Linked DNA regions of Homo sapiens. The protein of the gene in region 4 purifies or fractionates together with the protein of the main gene of each other region. This does not show direct contact. Each region holds a gene or a part of one and is shown on either strand. Other genes may lie near its edges.

Region 1 (3,672 bases), on a different chromosome or scaffold from region 4:
CTTCACTCAGGAATTTTTCAGCTCTGTTATAATCTTATGGGAACACGTTGTGCATGTAGTCCATCGTTGCTCAAAATGTCTTTCTGTGGCGTGTAACTGTATTAATAAATGCGTGCTCCAGATTTAGAAAACAAAGGAGCCTTAACATCCAGAAATATGAGAGGCTGAGCAAGATCCCAAAGGATAAACTTAAAGCAGTTTCATATTGGAGAGAGGCAAGGGAAAAAAAGACATGCTCAACAAATTGGGAAGACCTGAAGAGGCGATGACCTCAGGTCAGGTCATAGCTTCAGGTCTGGCAGTGAGGACCAAGCTTTACCAAAGTTATACTTCTGAAAGGAAACTTTCTTGGAATTTGAAAAAGGAAATAAATTACAATTATAAGAAAATTAATTTCAACCAACCCTTGCTACATTTTAAAGAAAAGTACACCAAGAAGGATTTCATACCTAAATGTCAAGGCATTCTGTTCCGCATGTATGATGTATCTGAATTTCCTTATTTCTCTGTCTTTCTGCTTGTCATCCATGTGTGGGAAGTCAGCATACTCAGATCCAACAGGAAAAGCATTGTAACCACATCCTACAAAGTACATGGCACCTGTTCCATCACAACTTCTCTACGAGAGTGAGCAAACCAATGGTTAGTTTCAACATTCTGAAAAGACACTTTGCAATGTATTTTTGAAGCTTGCTATCATACTTTGTATAATGAATATTCATTCAATTTTCTACAGTAAACTGAGCTATCAAAAAATATAATACCAGATACTCCTACTGCAGTGTGATCTTGTCAAAGCTAAATTCCAAGAAGGCCAACCACCTCTCTAATCTATAATCTCAAGGAAGTCCTTGTTTTTTGCAATTAATTAAATACTATCTTACTTAACTAACAAATTATTTCACTTGATTCAGATATTACTTCCCAAATAAATTATAGATCCTGGAGAGCAGAAACCATGTTATATATTTCTTTTCCATCCCTTCAACATGTTCGAGTATTCTGTACATAGCAGGTACTCAACAAGTGATTGTTAATTTCTTATGTGCTCTGTGCCATGCTACTGGTTAGCAAGTCAAAAACTTTTAAATACTTTAAACAGAAAATTTCTGTTGGGCTAAAAATGTGCTATTGTGATTTAGTTGGAAAATAAAAAATGCATTTTCATCTTCAGTATTTATTAAGCCTCTATTATATGCATATTATTATAGAACTTCTTACTTCAATGGCTCTTATTTCTCTTTTAAAGAGAAATAGTAGTTAATATGAATGCTTTATCAATTATTAGAATGAAATATTAGTAATGTGTGTGTAATAGTTTTTTGGAATATGCTATAAAACTCATTAAATTTCAATATATTATAATTACTCATGATAATATCAACAGACTCATTACTGTAGCAGCTTCATAAAAATCATGTAATAGTGAGCCAACAAAAGCCTGCAAACAAAATATTATCTCATTAATAAATCTGTTTGAACATTTACTAAATGTCAAACATCATGCTGAGTTATTTATTTATTTATTTATTTAGAGACAGGGTCTCACTCTGTCACCCAGGTTTGACTTCCTGGGCTCAAGTCATCCTCCCATCTCAGCCTCCCAAGTAGCTGGGACCACAGGCGTATGTCACTATGCCTGGCTAATTTTTTCTTTTTTTGTAGCAACGGGGTCTCACCATGATGCCCAGGATTGTCTTGGACTCCTGGGCTCAAGGAATCCTCCCACCCCCGCCTCCCAAAGTGCTGGATTACAGGCATGAGCCACTGCACCCAGCCATACTGAGTTTTACATGGATCATTTCATTTGATCAATTCTTGAAACAACCTAAAGAGTGATACTATTAATATTACTGTTTTACAGATAAGGAAACTGAGGACAAGAGTGATTAATTGTCTAGGGTCACAAAATGAGTAAGTAACATAGCCAGAATTCAAGCCCAGATTACTTGACTCTAAGCCATGTGTCTTTCCATTTCACCGTGCTGCCTGCTGGCCTACTCTAGAGATAACTAGAAACTGACATTCTCCACAAAATCATTAACAACCAGATGTTAAGCCAAAAGTCTGCTGAGCATTCATGTACACACAAATGAGAGTTCCAACCACCAGTTAGACCTATGCTAGGTGCTGGAATACAACTGTAAACAAGACAGAGAGTCCCTACCCTCATGAGCCTTCTAGTCTGGGGAGGGTAAGAAATTGAACAGATAACTTTAACTGTGATGAATGTCACAGACAAGTTGTACAGAGTGCTGAGGAATTTCTGGCAGAGGAGCCTAGTATTCTAGTAGGAGTTAACAGTTGGGGTACAGGTAAGTAGAGTCAAGAGGTATTTTGAAGGTGGAATCCATTGTGCTAGGTGATTGTATGTGTACAGTAACAGACAAGATGGTGACCACTGATGAGGGAGGAGGTTAGCAGGGAAGATACTGGATGAGTGAACTTGAGGAGTTTGTGAAACATCAAAGCAAATTGTCAGATTACTTTCTGTGAAGTCCCTGAGGCAAAATGTAGGCTCACCTTTCAGTCAGCTATATAGTTACTAAATATCTCTTGATTCTAGCCTCCTAACCCATCCCCACATCTCCAAGTCCTCATCTCTTTTTATTAATCTCCTTATTTTCTGTCTAGCCCTACCTCATTCTATTTATAATGCAAATCTGATCAAATCATTTCCCCACTTAGAACATTCTTGGAATGCACTGTCCCATACAGTCGCCACTAGCCACATGTGGTTAGTCTAGATTGAGAGGTGCTGCAGGTGTAAAATACACATAGAATTTTGAAGATTTAATATTTTTTAAATGCAGAATATTTCATCAATAATTTTTTATTGATTACATGATTAAATATTTTCTTAAAATTAATTTATCTGTCTTCCTTTTAAAAACATGGCTCCAGCTGGTTGCAGTGGTTCACACCTGTAATCCCAGCACTTTGGGAGGCCAAGGCAGGTGGATCACGAAGTCAAGAGATTGAGACCATTCTGGACAACATGGTGAAACCCCATCTCTACTAAAAACACAAAAATTAGCTGGGTGTGGTGGCACACACCTGTAGTCCCAGCTACTGGGGAGGCTGAGACAGGAGAATTGCTTGAACCCAGGAGGCAGAGGTTGCAGTGAGCTCAGACTGCACCACTGCACTCCAGCCTGGCAACAGAGTGAGACTCTCTCTCTCTCTCTCTCTCTCTCTCTCTCTCTCTCTCTCTCTCTCTCTCTCTCTCTCTCTCTCTCTCTATATATATATATATATATATATATATATATATATATAACACCTAGAAAATTTAAAATTCAGTTTGAGCCTTGCCTTTTCTCTCTACTGGTTAGTGCTGTGCTATAGTATGTCACTGCCAGGATAAAGTCCAAAATCTTTACATGGAATATAGAGTTCTTCATGGTCCCGTCCACTTTGTTGCTTACTCTATGTGCCAAATCAAATGCGTTTTCCCATATTCTCTCTCTCACCCCAGTCTCTGTGTGTTATTCTCCTGGTCCCATTAACTTGCTCTGCCTGATGATATCCTCCTAATCTTCAAGAATTTTAACATTATTAATATTAATATTAAGAATATTCAGGGCAGGCATGGTGGCTCACACCTGTGATCCCAGCACTTTGGGAGGCAGAAGAGGGTGGACTGCTTGAGGCCAGGAGTTCAAGACCAGC
Region 2 (3,672 bases), on a different chromosome or scaffold from region 4:
TATTTAAATCAGTTTTTTTCCTAGTTGCAAAATCTAACAAATTTCATATAGCAATAAAATTTTTTTTATTTTTTTCTTCCTTTTTCACATCACCCGCAATGCCAGACAAGTAGTCCAATTTAGAAATAGGTTACAGTTAGTGATCCTACTCATGCTTCTTATATTAGAATAGGAATCGCTGAAGCTTCCCACAAACTGAAGCCATGTCTTACTCATCTTTGTATCTCTAATGCCCACTATGTGGCATATATATATATGTGCTCAAAAACGTTAAATACATAAACTCTCAAAAATTATTTACTGAGCTTTACCATAAAAGTTTATGATACAAATATTAGCCTATCAGTAATGATGTGAAGTTAGCATTTGAAAAAATAATGTCTGGCAGACTAAATAAGCTACACTGCATTTCCTTTTAGGAATGGTCAGTACTGGAAAGATTTTAGACCTAGCAGTATTGATCTCCAATTATATGCACCTTAACTTTTCTTCAGCAACTCACTTCTATGGCCATATCAGATAGCTTTTCTTTTCTTTTTTTTCTTTTTTTTTATTTTTTTTGAGATGGAGTTTCGCTCTTGTTGCCCAGGCTGGAGTGCAATGGCCCGATCTCAGCTCACTGCAACTTCCACCTCCCGGGCTCAAGCAATTCTCCTGTCTCAGCCTCCCGAGTAGCTGGGATTACAGGCATGGGCCACCACACCCAGCTAATTTTGCATTTTTAGTAGAGACAGGGTTTCACCGTGTTGGTCAGACTGGTCTCGAACTCCCGACCTCAGGTGATCCACCCGCCTCAGCCTCCCAAAGTGGTAGGATTATAGGCATAAGCCACGGCGCCCAGCCTCAGATAGCTTTTCCTAAACCAGATCTACTTCACTTCTAAAATCTTAAACTTCAATGTGACAGTTTCAGACAAAATCTCCAACCCTTCCAATTATCTCATTCCTTTACTCCATTACTTTTCCACCTAGATAGCATTCCCAATCCTTTGACGGTTCTTTCCTTTTCTCTCCAGGCTATCAGCTACCGCCCTCTCCTCCCCTTCCTTATATATCCTCAATCTAGTGGCCAATCCCATCAACACAAAGTGAGGCACTCTAATCCCTCTCATCACTTTGCCATTCAGGCACCAAATCCTGCATGTGTTTAACCCTTCTGAATGTCCATAATGAATATTCTTTTTTTCTTTTTTGAGACCAGGTTATGAGACTGGCTAATTTTTGTATTTGGGGTAGAGACAGAGTTTTCATCATGTTTCCCAGACTGATCTCAAACTGCTGGGCTCAAGTGATCTGCCTGACTTGGCCTCCCAAAGTGCTTGGATTACAGGCATGAGCCACCACACCTGGCCCCATTTTCTACTTAAGTTACTCAGAGTCCATTTGTAGACTCCGTATTTCCACCCCAGATATTGCTCCTAAACCCTAGACTTCAAAAATAAGACTGCTTTAATGAGCATATCCCTCTTACCTTTATTAGTAGTCACTCCTCACCCCCAGGATAAAGTTCAATTTCCTTAATGTAGCAAATGAGGCCCTTGGAAATCTAATTTAGTGCACTGCCTATTACAGATGACTAATGGAGCAACAAGCCTAACTCAAAATAGCCCTCTCCATTACCATATTTTTGCTGTACAACCCTTTGCCATTGCTAATTGAACCATGGGTAGACAAAACTGGGTCACAAAGGCTTTCTCTCTAGGGGATTCTGAAACCTGACAGGAGAGATCAAAGACTGGGAATTATGGAAGATAGGCCAGCACTCTAAAGCTGTAGCTCCCAACCAGGAGTAATTTTGCCTCCTATGAGACATTTGGCAATGTCTGGAGACATTAAACATCCTACAATGCACAGAACAGCCTTCACAACAAAGAACTATCTATTTCAAAATGCCAATGATGCCAAGGTTAAAAAACCCTGCTGCTACTTTAAGAGGAAGGTCCAAGAACTCTTCCAATGAGATTCTAGGAGCTAGCTGGTTCCTGTTCTTTCCTTGATTTGGTTGTTCAGATATTCTTCTGCTTTCTGTTACATTTCCCTTTTTACTTAAATAGATCAGCTTTCTGATGTTTGCAGGCAAAACAACTTTACTAGCACAGAACCCTAGCTCAATCATACGACACACACCTGTACACTTTAAGCTGGTTTCTCAATCTCGGAACTACTGACATTTGGGCAAATAATTATTTGTTGTGAGGGAATATGCTGTGCAATGTAGAACGTCTAGCAGCATCCCTGGCCTCTATTCACTAGATGGCAGTAGTATTACCCTCCCCTCCAAGTCTTGACAATTAAAAATATCTCCAGACACTGCCAAATGTCACCTCAAGACAAACTGACCCTGGTTGACAACTGCTGCTTTAAACTATACGATGACTCCACCGAGGTGAGGTGAATGTCTGCCCAGTCAACTCCCACTCCCAGGAAACCTTGTGCAGAGCACAGTATGCCCTTAGCCTAAGGGAGCGAAGGAGAAGAGAGTGTCTGTATCCAAAACTTCCCTACCCCTTTTCAGGTCCTGGCTTAATTAAATATACGTCCACTTTGCCGATTTGCAAGCGCCTGTTCACAGGTGTGTACATGTGTATACACATACACATACACACACACACACACACACTAATGTCTTGAGCTGAAAGGTAGCTTCTGCTTTTATTTCCTTTCTCACATTTGTTACGACTTCTCTTTAGAAGTTTCCATTCCCATGTGAAAAACTACTCTCCTAGAAAACCCTCCCAAAATACATTCAGTCCTATTACAGTTTGAAAAATCGGGGCAGTTTCTCCTTCAAAAGCTTTTCCTGTTTCACTCTGGAAAAATGTCACTACTCTAAGCTCCCCCATCCCACCAACACACCTCCTTGTCCTCATTTCAGATTCTTCAAGTAGATAAACTTTTTATTAACAACTGGAGAGATGTTTGGAATACAAACTAACAATTAGGCAAGGAACAAGTATATAGATTTACAGTTCTCAAATAGTTTAGCATTGAGTTAAAGAATCTGTTAATCTCTTAAGAACAATTCCTCTTCCATACTTTCCCAACATACCAGCTTCTCAAGTCCCTTCATCCAGGCAAAGATGGTTTTAATCTTGCAACTGCACTATATTTCAACCTCAAGGCTAAAAATGAGAGCTCTTTCTCATGTTGGTTCACAGTCTTCCTCCTTACTGGCAGAACTCCTCCCCCCATACAATAACTGGGTTATTTCCTTACCGGAAGACCCCTCATATAAACCCCTGTAAGAACTAGGTCATTTTCCTAGTTATTTTCCAGGATCCAAAGGCACCACATTTATTTAATGATTCAATTACTCACTGCCTCCTAAAGCCACAGGGAAACTGGTCATTCCCAAATCTATAAGAATATTGGCAGTAGTCTTGCCTCAGTAAAAAAAAGCAATGTAAGAGAAAGTAAGCTCATTCATGTTATGTATCCACATTCATGCAACAAATAGTTGTTGAGTACCTACTTTATGCCAGCCTCAAGACAAAAATCCCTGCTCTCATAGAGTCTACATTTAAGTGGAGAAAGACAAAAATACATAAAGAAATAAATATGTACGACAGACAAGCATGAGTGCTATGGAGAAAAATAATGCAAGCAAGAGGACTGGCAATATGGGGGCTCACAATTTTAAACTCTGTGGTCAGGAAAGGTCACCTTTGAGAAG
Region 3 (2,643 bases), on a different chromosome or scaffold from region 4:
CCTGCTCTACCTTACTGATTTTTAGATTTCTAACTTCTGGGGCTGGTCTTTTGTCATTGATGTAACAAATATCTCCTCCACAGTGGTCCAGACCCAATCTTTGTCCAGGCTGGGGCTTTCAAAGATGATAAAGAGGGGTTGGGTGGGATCACAAAGAAATCTTGCGCAAATATACCTTGAACTAACATATATTGAAAAAAGCAGGACCTAACATTTCAAACTCACTGAAAATGGAGAAATGAGATGGTAAACTTTTTGGGCTTAGAGGTGTAGAAGCAGGAACTCTTAGGTAGGTGGGAAGGCTGCTCTGTCTAGTTGGTCTCTGCACTCAATGCAACCCAGGCTGGGTCTGGAGTCATTTACCCTCCTTGCCCTCTCCCCAGCTTTTCCTACTCTTGCCAAGAGGGAGAAACCAAGGAGCTCTGGTCATCAGGTCACCATCTCAAGGCCTGCCGAGCTGTGGCCTTCTCTGAAGATGGGCAGAGTGAGTACTGGGGAAGACAACCAGCAATGTGGTGGAAGGGAGCAGTGAGCAGCACCATGACCTGGGCACCTTTTCCCCAGAGCTCATTACTGTCTCCAAGGACAAAGCCATCCATGTTCTAGATGTGGAGCAGGGCCAACTGGAAAGACGTGTTTCCAAGGCTCATGGGTAAGGAGAGCAGCCAATTCTGTGTATGTGCATGGAGGTGAAGGGTAAGGACCAGGAGGTCCCCACTGGGACAGAGATGCTCCAAGAAGTTCTACATCTGTGTCTCTAGTGCCCCCATCAATAGTCTTCTGCTGGTGGATGAGAATGTTCTGGCCACTGGGGATGACACAGGTGGTATCTGTCTCTGGGACCAGCGGAAGGAGGGCCCCTTAATGGATATGAGGCAACATGAAGAGTACATCGCAGACATGGCTCTGGATCCAGCCAAAAAGCTGCTGCTGACAGCCAGGTACAACTTCAAAGCTGCCTTGCCTCCCCTCCCCTCCCTGTGTGAAATGTCTTCCTCAAATAGACCTTGCGTCTAAGCCTACTGCTCTACTCTCTACAGCGGGGATGGCTGCCTTGGCATCTTCAACATTAAGAGGCGTCGGTTTGAGCTGCTCTCAGAACCTCAGTCTGGGGACCTGACCTCTGTCACTCTCATGAAAGTACAGCTGGTTATGGTGGGATGGAGGGGTGTGTGCTGGGGGCTTAGTCTGAGGCAGCTTCCACATTGTTTTCTCTATTTCCCTGCAGTGGGGGAAGAAGGTAGCCTGTGGCTCCAGTGAAGGTACCATCTACCTCTTCAATTGGAATGGCTTTGGGGCCACAAGTGACCGCTTTGCCCTGAGAGCTGAATCTATCGACTGCATGGTTCCAGTCACCGAGAGTCTGCTGTGTACTGGCTCCACTGATGGAGTCATCAGGTGAGGGAAGCCTGGACAGCCCTTAGGTCACAGGAAGGGCAGACCCAGCTAGCCAGTACTCAACACTGTTCTTTCCCTGCCCAGGGCTGTGAACATCCTACCGAACCGAGTGGTGGGCAGTGTGGGCCAGCACACTGGGGAGCCTGTGGAGGAGCTGGCCCTCTCCCACTGTGGCCGCTTCCTGGCCAGTAGTGGCCATGACCAGCGCCTCAAGTTTTGGGACATGGCCCAGCTGCGAGCTGTGGTGGTGGATGACTACCGTCGGCGCAAAAAAAAGGGAGGACCACTGCGGGCTCTGAGCAGCAAGACTTGGAGCACCGATGACTTCTTCGCAGGACTGAGGGAAGAGGGAGAAGACTCCATGGCTCAGGAAGAAAAGGAGGAGACTGGGGATGACAGTGACTGAAGGAATGAATTGAATCTTGAGACGGGTCCTCACCAGGCAAGAGTCTTGCTTATTGGGCTGCATCCCCAGAGAGGATATGAATTATTTTTTGAAAAGACAGGGTTTTGCCATCGTCCAGGCTGGAGTGCGCTGGCTTGATCTTGGCTCACTGCAGCCTCAATGTCCCCAGGCTCAGATTGTCCTTCCACCTTAGCCTCTGGAGCAGCTGGGACTACAGGTGTGCACTACCACACCAGGCCAATTTTTGTTTTTTTTTTTTGGTAGAAACGGGTCTGTTTTGCCCAGGCTGGTCTTCAACTCCTGGACTCAAATGATCCACCTGCCTCTGCTTCCCAAAGTGCTGGGATTACAGGCACGAGCCACCACACCTGGCCAAAAAAATTTATATTTTTTGAGACAAGGTCTCACTCTGTCACCCAGGCTGGAGTACAGTGGGTTGATCATGGCTCACTGCATCCTTGACTTCCTGGGCTCAAGTGATCCACCTCAGCCTGCCTGGTAGCTGAGACTTAACAGGCATCTGCCACCATGCTTGACTAATTTTTGTGATTTTTTTTTGGTAGAGACCAGGGGTTTCACTATGTTGACCAAGCTGGTCTTGGAACTCCTGGGCTCAAGTGATCCTCCTGCCTTGGCCTCCCAAAATGCTGGGATTACAGGCATGAGCCACTGTGCCTGGCTGGATATGAAATTTTTTTTTTTTTTTTTTTTGAGACAGGGTTTCGCTCTTGTTGCCAGGGCTGGAGTGCAATGGCGTGATCTTGGCTCACTGCAACCTCCGCCTCCCGGGTTCAAGCAATTCTCCTGCCTCAGCCTCCCAAGTAGCTGGGATTACAGGT
Region 4 (3,672 bases):
ATGCTCTACACTAAGTTGTGTTGAAATTTCTTTGTGTACTGACAAGTATCCTTTTACTCACCCACAGTGTTAGACTCCCTAAAATTAGTGTGTGATGACTAAAGTGGGTTTTGTAATTAGTTAGGAAAATTTGTTTCTCCAACCAGGACCATCAACACAATTTGATCTTTTTGTGTGTGTGAATTAGCCAAAAACATACCCTTTCTTCCCTACCATCTGGGCTCTTGCCATATCAGGAGTGTTTTTTATTTATCTAGGGAAAGGGTAAATAAAAATAGAAGATTTGGAAAAGCACAATGGGGCAGAGTTCTAGAAGTGCTACTCACCAGCTCTGTGATCGTGGGGATGGCGTAATAAATGTGCCAAAACCATGGGGTCATTATGAGTATAAGTGGAGAAGAGGCATGTCAGCTGATTGGTGCAGTGCCTTGCACATAATATGCATTGAATAAATGTTAGTCATCATTCTGAATATCACCTAAAACCAGCCCTCAAAATAGGAAACGAACAGCTTCCACTAGTTTGCATCAAGGATGTTGATAAATATAGGTCAAATAGTGCTACTTGTAAATATGGCATTTCAAACTCACCAAACCAGAAGGGAAGCAGAGAGATGATCCAGTATACCTATTCTCCATCAAAGCTGAGTAACTCATCATCTCAGGGGCATGTACCAAATTGGGCTCTCCCTGGGCCAGCATACCTGAAGGTGGTGCTGCAGAAGCATGGTCAGTTGAGTAAGTGTTGTGGATGCTGTCAGCCCGAGGGTTGCCAAGGCAGAGCCCTGAAGAAGAACCATACGTTGCACCATCAGATGCATAATACGGCTGACAATTATGCTCAGAGAAATCTGAGGGATGCACTGGACTCGGAGTGCGGCTGAGGATCGGGTCCTCCTCCAGCTCAGCTCGCTGGTATTCTTCCATGCAAAAGGATGGCCTTGGAAGGTTGCTCGGGGAATTATTCTCACGCCTTGACACTGGTAAAGTGGGGCTGTAACTTTCAGGGTAGGAGAATGTCTCGTAAACCTCATTTTTCTTCATTTTCTGGAGTTTAAGCTTTTTAACAAGCCGGTAAGAATGCTTTTTATATCCATATCGCTTCTGAAATCACACAAACACAGCATAAACCAACAGTGAGTAAAAAAGTAAATAAAATTAGTAGCAAATACATTAATACTTATTTTCCATGCAACATTGCTTTACATTATTAAAAATAAATGGTCCCTTTTGATTATATAATTCTTCAATCCTACATTTTAATTGTATTTTACACATTATAATTACAAACATAAAAATAGGCAGCATCATAAATTATCAAACCTAAACTTCAGCGTTCTCCCAACAGAGTTTAGTCTCCATCTACTGTTACAAGTATAGACATGCCTTGCTAATCTCACACAGATACTGGTACTCTCTCACTTCTAGCTCATTGGCATCTTTACAAACCAGAGGTTTATCACAGTTGTAAAAATGTTTTTTATAACACTTACATGATTTGTCCACAGGGATCTCGCATGGAAACGTTGGATTTTTGAAACCTTTCTACGAATCACATCAATCTTCTTATCCAGGTTTTGCAGAGCATCATATATAACCTATTATAATACAATGTAGTCATATAATTGGTATACAATGTAAAATATAATTTTTTATTTCAAAGAAAAGTAACGTGAAAATACCATTAAGTCAAATGTTAACTGCTAGACACAACAAAAGTTCTCAAGCCATCAGAAATGTCTTGCTCCTATTCAAGGCCTGGCTGTAGGTGACACAGAGCCAACAGGCTGAGCTAGAGTAGTCCCCTCCCCTGCTCTACTCCATGTAGGAATTGAGGAAGCTCTAATGCTGGTGAATGAATGTCCCACAATGCCTCTATGCTAGCACATTGATGATGAAGACACTGCACATCAAGGAAGGTGCTATTTTAGGAAAGAAATCTGCTAAAAGAACAAAGACTCACTTTATGATATACATATGTAACATATATGTTCATATATGTACAAATATGAAGTCTATATTATATACAGACAGTGAGTGTTCCACTCCAGAAAGAACACTGAACCAAATATAACAGATGTGACTTTTGGCTTCAAAGTATTTTTAAATCACGCAGTCAGCAATTAATCTTACAAAACCGTTAAGTACACATCTCTTACGCGCCAATCGAACACATAGGAGACTGATAAAAGTCTGAGAATTCTTCTTGAAATACACAGAGACTTTGGGCAAAGAAAAATACACTTAAGCAAAGGGCCAGAAACATTGCAATCAAGCACATAGGAGGCTGATAAAAATCTGAGAATTCTTCTTGAAATACACAGAAACTTTGGGCAAAGAAAAATACACTTAAACAAAGGGCCAGAAACATTTCCTCATTCATTCATTCATTCATTCATTCACTCATTCAACTAAACCTTTATTGATGGCCTACCACCTGGCAGAACTACTTTGCTAGGTATTGAGAACATGGACCGAAAAAAAAAGCTCCTGGCCGGGTGCGGTGGCTCATGCCTGTAATCCCAGCACTTTGGGAGGCTAAGGCAGGTGAATCGCTTGAGCTCAGGAGTTGGAGACAAGCCTAGGCAACATGGCGAAACCCCCGTCTCTACCAAAAATACACAAAATCAGCCAAGCGTGGTGGTGCATGCCTGTAGTCCATGCTACTAGGAAGGCTGAGGTGGGAGAATCACCTGAGCCTGGGAAGTTGTGGCTGCAGTGAGCCATGACTGAGCCACTGCACTCCAGCCTGTCCTAGAGGAACTACCATCTCAGCTGGGAGAGAGACAAGTAAAAAGAGGATTCCAGCAGACAAAGTGATAAACAGCCTGGAACAGTGGTTTGCAAAGTGTGGTCCACGGACTGGTAGCATCAACATCACCTGTAAGCTCATCAGAAATGCCAAATGCCAGGTTGTACCCCAGACCTATGGAACCTGGAACTCTGAGAGTGGGGGCAGTGGTCTATGTTTTCACAAGCCCCCCAGGTGATTCTGATGGCCCTAGTGAGAACCACAGGGCTGCGGCACTGAGATAAACAGTGCAGGCTCTTGGGGAACATGGTTGGGGTCAAATACTACAGTCCAGCCACTTATTGGCTGTGTGACCCAGGGCAAGTTACTTAACCTCTCTGTGCTTCAGTGTCCTCATGTAGGGAATCAGGATGAAAAGCTCTCTCAGGGTTCTCTCGAGGACGAGAACCTTGCTATAGTATTAGGTTAATACTAACAGTAACAGCACTACACTACACCCGGTCCAACAGTGCTCAGTGGTCTCTTCATGTTACTATTGTTATTACCAGTGGCGTGACACAGGTGGGAACAGGAGGCTAAGCCTGCACAGAAAAGCAGTCCTAACCCAGGCTGCAGTCACGGAGACCTTTTCAGAGGAGGTGAGGTCTGAAGTGAGAATTAAAACATGAGAAGGCCCTCGCCAGGTGAGGATGCATGGAAGGGCTTACAGCATAGAAGGAACAGCAGGTTCATAAATACCCAGAGAGAAAAACAGGAAGCCAGGTGTGGAGACAGCAAGTATGAATGACATTCCAGGAGTGGGGCTGTCACAGGAAGAAGAGAGTGAGGATGACAGGAAAGGAGGGATGGGAAGCAAGAGAAGTGGCTTCTCCAAGATGTGGGAGAACTCGTAGAGGGGAAGGAGGGACAGGGACTGGAGCC

Evidence for each region.
Region 1: the proteins of SCML1 (region 4) and CDADC1 purify together in Homo sapiens (affinity purification with mass spectrometry, with the first as the bait; one large-scale study listed by BioGRID). This does not show direct contact.
Region 2: the proteins of SCML1 (region 4) and BLTP3B purify together in Homo sapiens (affinity purification with mass spectrometry, with the first as the bait; one large-scale study listed by BioGRID). This does not show direct contact.
Region 3: the proteins of SCML1 (region 4) and WDR55 purify together in Homo sapiens (affinity purification with mass spectrometry, with the first as the bait; one large-scale study listed by BioGRID). This does not show direct contact.

Annotation. Positions count from the first base shown.
Region 1 is NC_000013.11:49,275,297-49,278,968, reverse strand, and holds part of CDADC1 (cytidine and dCMP deaminase domain-containing protein 1), read right to left. Parts: intron 620-3,672; coding exon 450-619; intron 1-449. UniProt on the Homo sapiens protein: Catalyzes the deamination of cytidine and deoxycytidine into uridine and deoxyuridine, respectively. May play an important role in testicular development and spermatogenesis.
Region 2 is NC_000012.12:100,136,268-100,139,939, forward strand, and holds part of BLTP3B (bridge-like lipid transfer protein family member 3B), read right to left. Parts: intron 1-3,672. UniProt on the Homo sapiens protein: Tube-forming lipid transport protein which mediates the transfer of lipids between membranes at organelle contact sites. Required for retrograde traffic of vesicle clusters in the early endocytic pathway to the Golgi complex.
Region 3 is NC_000005.10:140,667,851-140,670,493, forward strand, and holds part of WDR55 (WD repeat-containing protein 55), read left to right. Parts: intron 1-383; coding exon 384-484; intron 485-564; coding exon 565-652; intron 653-761; coding exon 762-941; intron 942-1,040; coding exon 1,041-1,140; intron 1,141-1,228; coding exon 1,229-1,398; intron 1,399-1,482; coding exon 1,483-1,804; 3' UTR 1,805-2,643. UniProt on the Homo sapiens protein: Nucleolar protein that acts as a modulator of rRNA synthesis. Plays a central role during organogenesis.
Region 4 is NC_000023.11:17,747,325-17,750,996, reverse strand, and holds part of SCML1 (sex comb on midleg-like protein 1), read right to left. Parts: intron 1,598-3,672; coding exon 1,493-1,597; intron 1,104-1,492; coding exon 704-1,103; intron 1-703. UniProt on the Homo sapiens protein: Putative Polycomb group (PcG) protein. PcG proteins act by forming multiprotein complexes, which are required to maintain the transcriptionally repressive state of homeotic genes throughout development.